Linked DNA regions of Homo sapiens. The protein of the gene in region 3 purifies or fractionates together with the protein of the main gene of each other region. This does not show direct contact. Each region holds a gene or a part of one and is shown on either strand. Other genes may lie near its edges.

Region 1 (3,748 bases), on a different chromosome or scaffold from region 3:
TTCCTCCTAATCAAGCAATATTTTCTTTATCAATAATTAATTTCACATGGACAAGATCTGGGGAAACCATTTGAGATTTTATTCAATAAAAGAAATAATAGGCAGGGCATGGAGGCTCACGCCTGCAATCCCAGCACTTTGGCAGGCCGACGCAGGTGGATCACCTGAGGTCAGGAGTTTGAGACCAGCCTGGCCAACATGGGGAAACCCCGTCTCTACTAAAAATACAAAAATTAGCCGGGCATGGTGGTACGTGCCTGTAGTCCCAGCTGCTTGGGAAGCTGAGGCAGGAGAATCGCTTGAACCCAGGAGGCAGGAGTTGCAGTGAGCAGAGACTGTGCCACTGCACTCCAGCCTGGGTAACAGAGTAAGACACCATCTCAAAAGAAAAAAAAAAAAAAAAAAAGAACAAAAGGGAACAAGGATAGGAAGCTGTTTTTTGAATTCAGGTATAGTGTGGCAAGCTGTAAAAAAAGCAAGAATTTCACAACTCACCATTAGCTGATTTTAAATCAGGGAGGATGTGATTCACAAAGAACTCAGTTAGGTTTACAAGTTCATTTGCTTGTGTAATTCCATGCTGAAAAGCAAATTCATAACATAGTAAAATAACAAAATACCTGTATATATCTATCACATTAGAAATTCAGGCAATTTTAGAAAACCATGTTAAAATGGAGATGAACACTTCAAAATACAAATTGCTTATGTATAAAATGAGACTGTACTGGCTGTGTACAGGAGCTCACGGCTGTAATCCCAGCACTTTGGGAGGCCGAGGCGGGTAGATCACTTGAAGTCAGGAGTTCAAGACTAGCCTGGCCAACATGGCAAAACCCCGTCTCTACTAAAAACACAAAAAATTAGCCAGGTGTAGTTGCATGCACCTGTAATTCTAGCTACTCGGGAGGCTGAGGCATGAGAATTGCTTGAACCCGGGAGGCAGAGGTTGCAGTAATCTGAGATGTTGCCATTGCATTCCAGCCTGGATGACAGAGCAAGACAACGTCTCAAAAAAAAAAAAAAAAAAAAAAAAAAAGAGAGAGAGGGACACTTCAAAACATGAACTGCTTAGGCTAGGCATGGTGGCTCATGCTTGTAATCCCAGCACTTTGGGAGGCCAAGGCAGGTGGATCACCTGAGGTCAGGAGTTCAAGAACAGCCTGACCAACATGGAGAAACCCCATCTCTACTACAAATACAAAATTAGCCAGGGTGGTGGCGCATGCCTGTAATCCCAGCTACTCGGGAGGCTGAGGCAGGAGAATCACTTGAACCCGGCAAACGGAGGTTGCGGTGAGCCAAGATCGTGCCATTGCACTCCAGCCTGGGCAACAAGAGCGAAACTCCGTCTCAAAACAAAACAAAACAAAACAACAACAACAAAACACAACCTGCTTATGTATAAAATATAAAATAAGACTATACTGTCTAGGCACGGTGACTCACACCTGTATCCCAGCACTCTGGGAGGCTGAGGTGTGAGGATCACACGAGGTCAGGAATTTGAGACCATCCTGACCAATATGGTGAAACCTTGTCTCTACTAAAAATACAAAAATTAGCCAGGTGTGGTAGTGCACACTTGTAATCCCAGTTACTTGGGACGCTGAGGCAGGAGAGTCGCTCGAACTCGGGAGGTGGAGGTTGCAGTGAGCTGAGATCACGCCATTGCACTCCAGCCTGGTGACAAAGTGAGACTCCATCTCAAAAATATAAAAATGTAAAATAAGACTATACTAATAGACAATAAAGAAACTTTCCTCAATTAAAGAACAGCTAAGTTTAAGTTAAGCATATTTGATACAGCGGGTCTCAGCTAAGGTAACAAGTGTGGCCATCTATCAATTTTCTGGTCTATAAGAAACTTAAGTGCTCAATACATCAACATAAAGCCATCTTCAGAGATTATATAAATCTTAATCAGAATAGGTTATCTGGCAGAGTAAGCTCTATTATCAGAGACGTTATTTCTTTTTGACTTGTGTGGGTGTCACTGATGTCTGTTTTAGAAACAAAACCACATTAAAAATATTTACCTTCTGTGTTTGGGCTTTTGATGCCAAAGATGTCACTAGGTAGATGGCTGCATCTTTGTGTTTCCAGTTGACAGATGGATTTTTTGCGTATTCCTGCAGCATGGAATTAACATAACCAGAGAAGATTCCTGTCACAGGTCCCTCAAAAAACTTGCATAATCCTCGTACCAGATCACAAGCAGCCCTGCGTCTAGTATCAATATCTATGAAATGAAAAGAAAATATATTATGGGGAAAAAAAACAACCACCAACAAGCTGATCCAATTTATAAGAAAACAAATTGCCTGGAATAATTTGGCTACGATTGTAAAACGGAAAAAAAAGAACGAAAAACAAAGGGCCACCCAATAGCTATCAGCAACACAAACAATGAAAAAAACATTCCCGCCCCCAAGAAATACAAAATCAAAATGAAACTAAAGAGGTCACAGAATCACAGAATTTTGATAAATACTATGTAAGAACAGACAAATGATTCAACTTTTGATATTTTCATTCAGGTCATATAAGAGCTTTTTAAGACAAGTTGAAGAAAGACAACAGTTCTCAATGAAAGCCCGCTGAAAAAACACTCTTATTCTCAATCCCACTTCTCCCATTTACTAGAAAGAGAACCACCTTAAAACTGGCTTGCTAAGAGACTAGTAACTAAAAAACCAAGATACACACCAGATCCTTCCAAATCTCTCCTTATGTACTCCTCAGAATTATCTTCAAATGCTTCTTCATCAGCAGCTACAAGGAGAGATGATATTTCAGATAACACTCCAAAAGACGTCACTGTACTTTACAGCTGAGAATGCAGAAGAGTATGTAAAACTGCCTTGTTCTACAGCAAAGAATTCGTTCCCATCAGATGACTACTTCATATACTCTTAATCATTATCTAGAGCAGCAAATGCTACCCTGAAAGGTGAGGTATTAGGTAATTCACACAACTATGAGATAGGCTCACTTGTTCTAATGTGACAGTTTCCCCAGAATTGGATTATACCTGCAACTGTCAAAAATGTTAGGGATCAGTATCAGAATGCTAACTTTTAATTTCACCAAATAAGAACATTAAAATACCAACAACCTAATTTTAATCACTATTATTTCATTAAAGTCATTTCAACAACAAATAAGTAGAGTGGACAATGTCAGAAATGGCCGGCATGGTGGCTCACGCGTGTAACCTAGCACTTTGGGAGGCTGAAATGGGAGGATCGCTTGAGCCCAGGAGTTTGAGACCAGCCTGGTCAACACAGCGAGATCTCATCTCTATTTTTATCATATAAATTAAAAAAAAAAAAAAGTCTACACACACACACACACACACACACACACACACACACACACACTGCAGTTGTATGATCATGTCTCACTGCAGCCTCCACCTCCTGAGCTCAAGCAAAACTCCCACCTAAGCTGCTTGAGTACCTGGGACCACAGGCCCATGCCACCATACCCAACTAATTTATTTATTGTAGAGATAAGGTTTTGCCATTTTGGCCAGGCTGGTCTTTAACTCCTGGGCTCAAGTGTTCCTCCCACCTCAGCCTCCCAAAGTGTTGGGATTAAAGGTATGGGCCACCACACCCAGCCAGAAGATTTATCCTTTAAACATATTTTTATGAAAACACAACAGGAAATAAAATCTCACGCTATATTGTCCTTAATTTCCTTATTTTGTTCCAGATGTAATTTGAAAACCACTGATCTAATA
Region 2 (3,748 bases), on a different chromosome or scaffold from region 3:
TGATATAGCATAGATGGGAAGAGCACTGGAAGAGAGGTCTAGGAAGTGAGAGGCCAGGGTTTGGGTGGATCAGTTATGTACATTCTTATCAATTTCAATATAAAGACTGGAGAGTGGGACAGTGGGCCTTTATGACATAATTCAAAACTGAAGATTATAGGGAGAAAGGAGGAAGCATAGTCTGAAAGAAGTAAGAAGACTCATGACAGATATCTTTCCCACCTCTAGAAACAGTGGGAGGAAAGTTACGGAGCAAACAAACAAAAACAGCCACAACTGCACAGTGGAAGAGAGTCCGGTTTCCATTACAGCAAGAAAGTGAAAGCAACATCTAAGAATGGTTCAGACTGGATTTTGCAGATGATGGATAGTTAATTTCACAAAGTACAGTAGAAGGGTATGAAAAGTTGAGAAGAGGTTTAAGAAAAAGCATAGACCCCACTCCAGCCTGGACAAGAGAGCTAGACTGTGTCTCCAAAAAAAAAAAAAAAAAAAAAAAAGTGTAGACCCAGGCCAGGCCGGGCGCAGTGGCTCACACCTGTAATCCCAGCACTTTGGGAAGCCAAGGTGGGCGGATTGCCTGAGGTCAGAAGTTGGAGACACGCCTGCACAGCACAGTGAAACCCCATCTCTACTAAAATACAAAAAATCAGCTGGGCATGGCGATGTGTGCCTGTAGTACCAGCTACTCGGGAGGCTGAGGCAGGAGAATTGCTTGAACCCAGGAGGCAGAGGTTGCAGTGAGCCGAAATCATGCCACTGCACTCCAGCCTGGGCAACAGAGCGAGACTCCATCTCCAAAAAAAAAAAAAAAAAAAGTGTAGAACTTTTTATGAATGGAATGCCAGAGACAAAATGTGAACAGGAAGTCTGGAGTTTCTGTGGTTACTAACAAGGACTAATCCTAGCACACATGACTCCTGATATACTCACGTGTTTCTCTAAGAAATGGAAACTGCTGGGTCAAAGATATTTTTACTTTAAAATAGCCGTACCGATATATTCAATGTTATCCCTACAACCTTCTCAATACATACTAACAAAACTTTTTTCTCTTTGGCCAGTATAATGAGAAAAAAAAAAAAGTCACTGCTTTACTTTGCATTTTTCTGCTGGTGAGGTAAATCATTATTCCATGTTTACCTGCTAGCCATATTTCCTCTTCTGTGGAACTTGCCCACTTAAAAAACTGAGTTGTTTTCCCTTTTAAATCGATGTAGAGTGCTTTAAAAATCTATTTTATTCTGCTCTTAATGATTCATACAAATCAATCTTCTAGATTCGTTTCATATCTTTCAATGGCTCATGATAGGGTGACATAAGGCTCAGTAGGTTCTCTCTCTTCAACATCCCTCTCTACTATATATTAGAGTTTGTCTAATTAAGACCTTAGTCAAATCTGGCCATACCATTGGTTTCATAACTGTTTTTGCACTACAGTGGTAGAGATGGTATGGCCCACAAAGCAGAAAATATTTGCTACCTGGCCCTTTACAGAAAGTTTGTGGACCCCTGCTATATACCTTTCAGGGCCCCTGAACCGCTTAAGAGTTCCAAGAACACAGCAGATCTTTATGTTTACTGACACACTCACTGAAATGCTGTTCCTAGTTCCCAAAATGCTCCAGACATTCCCCCTAATCTATTCAACGAATCTATTACTGGCCTTTCTTGGTGTTTTTACAGATTTATATCACAAAAGCTGTAAATACACTTATTGAACTTGTTTATTTACATATCTCTTTCTCCACTAGTATGTAAATCTCTCGACAAGAGATAATCCCAGCACTAATAAATGGCACAAAAGTCCTTCATGGTTTGCTAGCTCTCTCATCATTTCCTAGTTCTGCTATGCTCCAGTCAAAATATATATTTAATTTCATTAAATATTTTTCAAAAACACAATTTCAAATGGTAGCATAATAATCAATAGTTCTGTACTTTTATATTCTTATCTTTAAAATCTTGTTGGATACCACCTATTCCTAATAATTTATTTGCATTTATTTAGTATATTCATGATTTGCTGAAATACTTCTCTTCCTTAATTCCTTTCTTAGTAAAAACAAAAGTGGTGGAATCTTATCCTTCCTAGCATTAACTTTTTCATTTGTGGTAGAAACATATGCATCTAGGATAAAGGGGCTCCACTAATAAATTATTTTACTAATGGCTTCGGAGTCATCTATAAAATGCAACTCAAATATGAATTTTTCTCTAATTTTCAGTATAAATTTAACTTCCTACACCTTGTAGGCAGTTCTATTCTCCTTATGTGAAACACATATTTTTTTGCTTGTTTCCCCAGTAAAACCTTCATTTACTTTACCAGGAGTTTTACTAAACGTATATTTCAATTTTAGCACTTACGGGCCTTTTCATTTCTCTTATTCCCCAAATTTAATCAAATTTGAGATTTCTTTGGTTTTCTCTCACCTATTTGTGTTAAGATCATTAAGAATTGCACCCACAGATATTTGGTGCATTCACTTTAGAACCCGGTTTTATATAGTTGTTACCAATTATATCTCATCCAGGTAAAGATTTTCTTTTTCTAAAATGTGGAAAGTTAAGCCCTGTCTTGTTTAACTTTGCAACTTACCCATTCATTATTCCCAGCTCAGTTTAGCTATCTTAAAAATGTGGTCTGTGATCTATAGTTAGTTATAGTATAAAATTCTGAATATGTATATGATATAAAAGTATACAAATAAAACAGCATGATGAGCTTTGCAGTCAAGCAGATCTAGATTCAGATTCAGGCTCGAACGCTCTGAGCCCTTGGACAAAGTACTTACCTATTTACACTTTGTTTTCTCATCAGTAAAATAGAAGTAACTTCCATGTATAACACAGAGCCAACATAATAAATGAGAAAAATGTACATGAAAGTGACAATGTATGTTAAATGCCTACAAATGATGTCTAGTACATTACAAGGAAAACGTTAATCCACTCTCTATTCCTCCAATCCCAAAGCAACAGGAACAATACTGTGTAGTCTCAATTTATTATATTAATAAGTTCATTATTAAATTCCCTTAAGTAAAAGCAATTTGCAGTATGGACCATGAGCTTTGGATGTTTACTTTGACTCAGTATTTTTGCTTTGGGGACTCTAAATAATCCAGAATGCAGAAATTGATTTTTGTATGAGGATGTTCATTGCAGTGTTTCTTATAACTGCAAAAAAATTAGAAACTGTTTAATAATGAGAAATCCACACAAACATGCAAACATTAAATATGGTGACAAAATAATTAAGTAGCATAAGAAAATGCTTATGGTGAGAATACAAAATTACTCACATAGTAAAGTCTCAACTGTGAAAAAAATCCAATAAACTCAGAAAAAAACATTGGAAGGAAATGCGCAAAAGGGCTTACAGTAGTTACTACGTAGTACTGATATTTGTAATTTTTATTTTATGGTTTTCTATAGTTTTCTGAAATAATTAACAGTGATAATGACATTGATGATAACAGCAGTTATTATTTATAGAAAAGTTAATACATGTCAGGCCCAGTTTTAAGAGCTTAGTGTATTAACTCATTTAATCCTCATAACATAAGATGAAAAAGTGAGATTAAATAACTTGCCCAAGGTCACACAGATAATTACAGAAGGTGCCAAAATCTGAATCCAAATAGTGTGGCTCCAAAGCGCCTGTTCTCTACACTACATTGAAAAGTTTTGCTTTGTTTTAAAAATTTAACCATTAAAAAGGCATATATCAATCCCAACTTTA
Region 3 (3,989 bases):
AAGGTCGTACTTGGGTCAACTATTTATAGACAGAAGAAACAAGGTCCAGTCTCCAGAGCCAGGGACCTGGTGATCAGAGGTCAGGGGTCACTAGAAAGATCTCTGGGAAAAGTATGTAATTTTCTACAAAATACTTTAATATCTACCCCAATTTAACCTTTCCTGGTTTTAAGGGGCAGGAGGGAGAGGAAGGCAGTGTAGGAGCTAGGCAAAGTCAAAACAAAAGCTGAATGGTATTTTGTCTCACTGCACATATTCATACAGAAATGTGCGTACATGTGGACACTGAGTATATGTGTGCATACTTAGCTATTCAATTGTACTCATAACTGTATTCACATCTATATTTCCTTCAAAAAAGTCCTGGGGCAAAATAAGAGACAACCTGAGTAAACTCACTAGACTTAGGGCAATTGCTATTACGATTTTCCATGTGGTTTCCATAAGCAAGGTGCACACACTTGACACCACACACCACAATAGTCAAATGGAAGGGAATACAATAGGAAATGGTTCTGAATCATTAGTTCTCAGCACTGATTGCACACCAGACCATCTGGGGAATTTTAAAAACACTGCCACCTGACTCCCATCCTGCAAGATTCTCAGATAATTACCTTGGATGCCACCTGGGCATCCTGATATTTAAATGGTCCCCAGGTGATTTTTAATCACTGCCAAGATTGAGAGCCAATGATGTGAATCAATGATACTCCAGCACATGGGCGCAATAATCATTTCAACAACATAACCTTGGGGTCAAGGAGTGACCCATATTTAAATGAACCCACCACGCCTGTGGTGAAGTTGTCACTGAACTAATTTGGAGCATCTACCATGAATAGAAACCAGTCCAGCTGGAATGCAAGAAGTAAGCAACCAGGTCCTGTCTGGTGCGCCTGCCACCCCAAAGGCTTGGGTCAGGAGCTTCTGAGAACCAGAAGCCCAGATTCGAATCTTGAGAAGCAGCCAAAAGTTTTGCTACAGGAACACATCTTACAGCCAATTATTATGCATGTTATTGCCACCAAGTAGGCTTCATGATGAGGGGTGGAGGTGCTAAGGAAGGGCTCCTTTCTAGAACTTCACCTTGACATTTAAACTGATCCTAGAGAACTTTTCTACATTCAACAGTGTTGGGGAAATGAGTTTTATACTCAGAGGTTATGCCATAGTGAAGGATAGTTCTCTTTACTAGAAAGCCAACTCCAAAAAGGAAGCTTACATATCATTTAATTTTAAAAGTCACAGAATTAGAAATTTTAAGATACCCCAAATCTCAATACTCTAAACTTAAAGATATATCATTTACTAACAGTGCCTATGAAGTGCAGCTCACATATGCCAAGTGCACTGCTCCCAGCCTCCTCCCTGCATTGTTTTATACCCCGTGCTCCTCTGTGCCATCTGGTCAGGTGTGTCAATCCTCCTTGGCACTTTCTCATGATTCTTTTTTTCACAACTATTTCTATAGGAGCATCAAGGATGAAGAACAGTTGAATGCAGTTTTTCTCAGTGTCAAATACTATATATTACTCTTCAAATCAAAATTCAAAGTGGAGCCGGGAGTGGTGGCTCCCACCTGTAATTCCAGCACTTTAGGAGGCTGAGTTGGGCAGATCGCTTGAGCTCAGGAGTTCAAGACAAGCCTGGCCAACACGGCAAAACCCCCTCTCTACTAAAAATCCAAAAATTAGCTGGGCATGGTGGTGGGCACCTGTAGTCCCGGCTACTCGGGAGGCTGAGGCACAAGAATCATTTGAACCTGGGAGGCAGAGGTTACCGTGAGCCAAGTTCGTGCCACTGCACTCCAGCCTGGGCAACACAGCGAGACTCTGTCTCAAAAAATATATTTAAAAAAAATTTCAAAGTGGTACCTAATAAAAAAATCTTACAGATCTTTTTCAACAGGCTATTTCTCAAATTAAAAAGATACTAAAGAGAATAATAATTACTGAAGAGAAAATCCAAATGCCATTTAAATGTGTCAACAACCGTAACTCAGAGTTTTACAAGAGCTAAGATAGTAAAGAGGTAGACAACATCACCGCTAGAGAACGAGACAAACCCTAAAACTGAATTTTATAAAAAAGTATAAGCCTAAATACCATTCACATTTAGCTTACAGAACCTTAGACCATGAGCAACTGATGAAACGTCCAATGACAGACTATCAAGGCTTTACAAAGCACTGTATCTGAGAACTGGTAAGTATTCAGTTTGACAATATAAGATGTTCCAATAAGGAATTAATCAGGATAATAAACAAAGTATATGAACAATATGTCTAGCTTTCTAACAACAAAACAAGTTATTTCCAAGTTCTAGAAAGCCATATCTCAAGGGATTAGAACAGAGACCATTAAGGAGGAAGAGAGAACTTGAATTGGCAGGGAATGTGCTATATAATGGCACTTCCGTCTATAATCAACTTCAGAATGCATACTCCACAGGAAATAAGAGATACTATGGCTCTTCAAGCAAGCAATGGTGTGTTAAAATTAAAAAAAAAAAGAAATACTGTGGGGAAAAAAGAATGAAGGAGAATAAAGATATTAGAGTCAAATATAAATTCCGTATTATACCTAGGCTCTGGGATCAACACCACCTCCAGGCTTTCCTAATTCATGTGAGCATGGGTTAGCATTAAAAAGGCACTATTTTACTTTGAGGTGATTACATTGCTTTACTCAAAGAACTTGGTGGAATGGCTAAAGTTTTAAAAACAAACAAAACTAACGATACTAAGTATTAGTGAGGATGCAGGGCAACCAGAACTCACATACACTGTTTGTAAGAATGTAAAACCGTAGAGTTGCTCTGGAAAAGCTTGGCCATTTCTTATAAAGTTAAACATACAGTTACATGAATCAGCAATCCCACTCCTAGGTATTTACCCAGAATAGATGAAAACTATGCTCACACAAAAACCTGTAGGTAAGTGTTTACAGCAGCATTATTCATAATTGCCAAAACCCGGGAACAACTCAAATGTTCTTTGATAAACCATCTGTGATACTTCCATACAATGGCAAACTACTTCATCAAGAAAAAGGATGTACCACATCCTAACATGCACAACAGTGTGCCTGAATCTCAAAAACATGATGCCAGGTGAAAAATTCAGACTCAAAAGGTTACACAATGTGGGGCTGGGTGCAGCGGCTCACGCCTGTAATCCCAGCACTTTGGGATACTGAGGCGGGTGGATCACCTTTGGTCAGGAGTTCATGATCAGCCTGATGGGGTTTAGTAGAAACCCCATCTCTACTAAAAATACAAAATTAGCCGGGCATGGTGGCACATGCCTGTAATCACAGCTATCCGGGAGGCTGAGGCAGGAGAATCGCTTGAACCCAGGAGGCGGAGGAGGTTCCTGTGAGCTGAGATTGTGCCATTGCACTCCAGCCTGGGCAACAAGAGTAAAACTCCGTCTCACAAAAAAAAAGAAAAAAAGGTTACACAATGTATGATTCCACTTTTATGACATTCTGGAAAAGGCAAAACTAGGAAGATGGTAAACAGATCAGTGGTTGCCAGGGGTTAGGTGTAGGAAGAGAGTCTCACTACAAAGGTGCAGCATTAGGGAATTTAGGTTGGAGGCAGAGGACTCTTTGGGATAATGTTAACGGTGGTGCTTACATTACCTATACAGTCAACAAAACTAAAAAAAGAAAATAAAAGAAAATCCGTAATTTTTTTTGCACACAAATTATTTTTTTCGAGAAGGTGTCATGCTCTGTTGCCCAGGCTGGAATGTGGTGCTACCATCTCGGCTCACTACACCCTCCGTCTCCCAGGTTCAAACAATTCTCCTGCCTCAGCCTCCTGTGTAGTTCGGATTACAGATGTATGCCACGACACCTGGCTAATTTTTGTATTTTCAGTAGAGATGGGGCTTTGCCATGTTGCCCAGGCTGGTCTCGAACTCCTGAGCTCAAGCGATCTGCCCGCCTTGGTCTCCCAAAGTGCTGGGATTACAGGCATGA
Region 4 (3,748 bases), on a different chromosome or scaffold from region 3:
CATCCACATGGATGTATCCAGTAATAGCTTGTTTATTAGATGAATTCTTACTGATGAAGTTAACCGATATAAGCTTTTTAAAAAGCATCACTCTGCTTCTTTACCTCTTTGACATATGGAATAAAATTGCAAAAGCTGATCACTTTAGTAGAACTCTCTTTTTTTTCTCCCTGTTTTTTGAGACAGGGCTTCTCGATCTGTTGCTGAGGCTGGAGTGCAGTGGCGCCATCACTGCTCCCTGGAGCCTTGGCCTGCCCTGGGCTCAAGCGATCCTCCCACATCAGCCTCCTGAGTAGCTGGGACTGCAGATACATGCCACCATGCCCTGCTAATTTTTTTTTTTTTTTAATAGAGACAGGGTCTCACCATGTTGTCCAGGCTGGTCTCAATTCCTGGCCTCAAGTGATCCTCCCACCTCAGCCTCCTAAAGTGCTGGGATTACGGGCATGCGCCCCTGTGCCCAGCCCTGGTAGAACTCTTAACATCTTAGTGGGAATTATTCAAAATTGAGAATTCTGAAATCTCAATTTGTTACTCAGTCTGGATGGCTCTTACTAGAACACTGAATCACAATGTATGTTATTTGTGGAAAAATCAAACTAGAAAGGGAGAATTCTTCATGAACACTTGTTAAACTGAAATTATTTTTATACTAAATTGAATAATAAAAACCAAAAATTATGGCCTGTGAGCTGGGTGCAGTGGCATGTGCCTGTGGTCCCAGCTACTTACGAGGCTGAGGCAGGAGGATCACATGAGCCCAGGATTCAGGGCTAACCTGCTGGGCAACATAGTGAGACCCCCATCTCTGAAAAAGAAAGAAAAGAAAAATTATGATCTGTTGTTATGGCATTCTGTTCTCTGTAAGGACAAAGTAGATGAAGTTGATGAGGTGTGAAGTTTCCTTATTCAGTTTCAAGTATTATTTATTTATCTTTCGTGGAAGATAAGTCAGCAAAAAAAACCTGGAATGAGGTTTTTAAAAAATGCAGTGGCTGGGCACAGTGGCTCATGCCTGTATTCCCAGCACTTTGGGGGGCTAAAGCAGGCAGATCACCTGAGGTCAGGAGTTATGTGGCAAAACCCCATCTCTACTGAAAATGCAAAAATTAGGCCGGGTGCGGTGGCTCACGCCTGTAATCCCAGCACTTTGGGAGGCCGAGGCGGGCGGATCACGAGGTCAGGAGATCGAGACCATCCCGGCTAAAAACGGTGAAACCCCGTCTCTACTAAAAATACAAAAAATTAGCCGGGCGTGGTGGCGGGCGCCTGTAGTCCCAGCTACTTGGGAGGCTGAGGCAGGAGAATGGCGTGAACCCGGGAGGCGGAGCTTGCAGTGAGCCGAGATCCCGCCACTGCACTCCAGCCTGGGCGACAGAGCGAGACTCCGTCTCAAAAAAAAAAAAAAAAAAAAATGCAAAAATTAGCCCGATGTGGTGACCGGTGCATGCCAGCAATCCCAGCACTTTGGGAGGCCGCTGCGTGTGGATCACCTGAGGCCAGGAGTTCGAGACCAGCCTGGCCAACATGGTGAAACCCCATCTCTACTAAAAATACAAAAATTAGCTGGACGTGGTGGTTCATGCCTGTAGTTCCAGCTATTTGGGAGGCTGAGGCAGGAGAATCGCTTAAACCTGGGGGGCGGAAGTTGCAGTGAGTCAAGATGGTGCCACTGCACTCCAGCCTGGGTGACAGTGAGACTCTGTCTCAAAAAAATAAAAATAAAAAAACAAAAAATGGAATGGCTGGAATTGCAGTTTTAACCATCATCTTTTGGGAATCACTTGATAGTACCTTTTGTGAAAGGGGACCTTCTCAAATAAGAACCCATCATTTACGTGAGACTTACATGTTAATTGGGTTAGCTAGGGCAGTTTTGAACTTGAATCTCTGAAAGATTGGAGGTAAGACTAGGGAATCTGTTAAACACTCGTTTATATAGTGTTTCATATTTATCAATACATCAGTTGAAGACATGGAATGTTAGAGGATTGAATATTTCATAGATAAATATGAAATTTTAATTTTTCGTACTTCACTAACTTCCTATAGAAAACAAAAGAAATTAGGTGCCGCAAACCACCATGGCACATGTATAGCTACATAAGAAACTTGCACGTTCAGCACGTGTCTCAGAACTTAAAATTAAAAAAAAGAATTGGTGACAGTCATAATTAAGAGCATTGTTCTGTGCATGAAAGAACAAGAAATAGAAGAGTATAAGTTTTTCTGTGGTTTGTATATTTTTTGAGATGAAGTCTGTGTCGCTGGGCTGGAGTGCAGTGGCGTGATCTCGGCCCACAGCAACCTCTGCTTCCCTGATTGAAGCAATTCTCATGCTTCAGCCTCCTGAGTAGCTGGGACTACAGGCGTGTGCCACCAAGGCTGGCTAATTTTTGTGTTTTTAGTAGAGACGGGGTTTTACCATGTTACCCAGGCTGGTCTCAAACTCCTGACCTCAAGTGATCCACTCACCTCAACCTCCCAAAGTGCTGGGATTACAGGTGTGAGCCATAATGCCTGGCCTCTATGGTTTATGTTAATACATAATGGTTTCTGAGTGAGGAAGGAAGAGAAAGCTGGAGGAGGAGATGTTATTTTTCAAACCTTTCTCTTTATTTTTGGTCTTCAGTTTATTTTACGTCTTCAGTTTGGCCTATGTGTGGTTTTTCTTTGTACTAATCCTATAAATTGTAAAGTTATGTTTTCACCAAATATAGGAAATAGCACTAAAAATGTGATTATTAATGTCTTCAGAAGATATATGGGATATTAGAGGATTGAATATTTGGAAGATAAAGTGGTTTGAAATTAACACGTGGTTATGTGCTATGCTTCGGAGGGAGGTATTTGTTAATCAAATCTCAGTAGCTTCATGTTAATAAGCAAATAATTCAGAGTTGTTTGTTTCTTGCACCTCATGTTTGCAGCCTATGAATTTAACTATTTTTGCTTATTTTTCCTCAAGATGTTTGAAAGTAGTTAAATGGCTTAGCATGGCCTATGTGTTTTTGTTGCAGAAATAACATTCCAGCTAATTTTACCAGGAGTGGAAATAAATTAAATCATCAGAAAGATACTCGTCAGGCAACTTTTCTTTTCAGAAGAGGCCTGAAGGTATTTAAAAACTTTGGCAGTGTTTTTGTTTGTTTGTTTGTTTTTTCCCAAAGAGGATCCTGAGCAGCCACCTTTAGTAAGCCTCAGTCATAGGCAGCATTGGGTTCAGGATGTGAGGCACGTGGTAGTAGATTAGTTCTTCCTGTTGTATGTTTTTTATTTCCCATCTTTTCTTACCCTCAATAGCAATGTCTTATAAGAATTTAACTCGTTATTTGGGAATAAACCTGTATTTGCCACTCGTTCTCATGTAGGAATTCCAACAGGGAACTGTTGCCAGAATAGCGTGGGCCCCTCTGCTGCACTCACGCACACACCCCACTGGGTTAGGAAGTTCTAGAATAGCACGGGCCCCTCCGCTGCACTCACGCACACGCCCCACTGGGTTAGGAAGTTCTAGAATAGCGCGGGCCCCTCCGCAGCACTCACGCACACGCCCCACTGGGTTAGGAATTTCTAGAATAGCGCGGGCCCCTCCGCTGCACTCACGCACACGCCCCACTGGGTTAGGAAGTTGTAGAATAGCGCAGGCACCTCCGCTGCACTCATGTACACGCACCACTGGGTTAGGAAGTTCCAGAGCAGGATCGCTCTTTGGATTCAAATCCTCTGCTTTCTGTGGTACCTACTG

The links.
Region 1: the proteins of MAP7 (region 3) and CSE1L purify together in Homo sapiens (affinity purification with mass spectrometry; one large-scale study listed by BioGRID and IntAct). This does not show direct contact.
Region 2: the proteins of MAP7 (region 3) and TNPO1 purify together in Homo sapiens (affinity purification with mass spectrometry; one large-scale study listed by BioGRID and IntAct). This does not show direct contact.
Region 4: the proteins of MAP7 (region 3) and FYTTD1 purify together in Homo sapiens (affinity purification with mass spectrometry; one large-scale study listed by BioGRID and IntAct). This does not show direct contact.

Annotation. Positions count from the first base shown.
Region 1 is NC_000020.11:49,073,812-49,077,559, reverse strand, and holds part of CSE1L (exportin-2), read right to left. Parts: intron 2,776-3,748; coding exon 2,710-2,775; intron 2,243-2,709; coding exon 2,040-2,242; intron 581-2,039; coding exon 496-580; intron 1-495. UniProt on the Homo sapiens protein: Export receptor for importin-alpha. Mediates importin-alpha re-export from the nucleus to the cytoplasm after import substrates (cargos) have been released into the nucleoplasm.
Region 2 is NC_000005.10:72,819,661-72,823,408, reverse strand, and holds part of TNPO1 (transportin-1), read right to left. Parts: intron 1-3,748. UniProt on the Homo sapiens protein: Functions in nuclear protein import as nuclear transport receptor. Serves as receptor for nuclear localization signals (NLS) in cargo substrates.
Region 3 is NC_000006.12:136,540,217-136,544,205, forward strand, and holds part of MAP7 (ensconsin), read right to left. Parts: intron 1-3,989. UniProt on the Homo sapiens protein: Microtubule-stabilizing protein that may play an important role during reorganization of microtubules during polarization and differentiation of epithelial cells. Associates with microtubules in a dynamic manner.
Region 4 is NC_000003.12:197,770,383-197,774,130, forward strand, and holds part of FYTTD1 (UAP56-interacting factor), read left to right. Parts: intron 1-3,020; coding exon 3,021-3,117; intron 3,118-3,748. UniProt on the Homo sapiens protein: Required for mRNA export from the nucleus to the cytoplasm. Acts as an adapter that uses the DDX39B/UAP56-NFX1 pathway to ensure efficient mRNA export and delivering to the nuclear pore.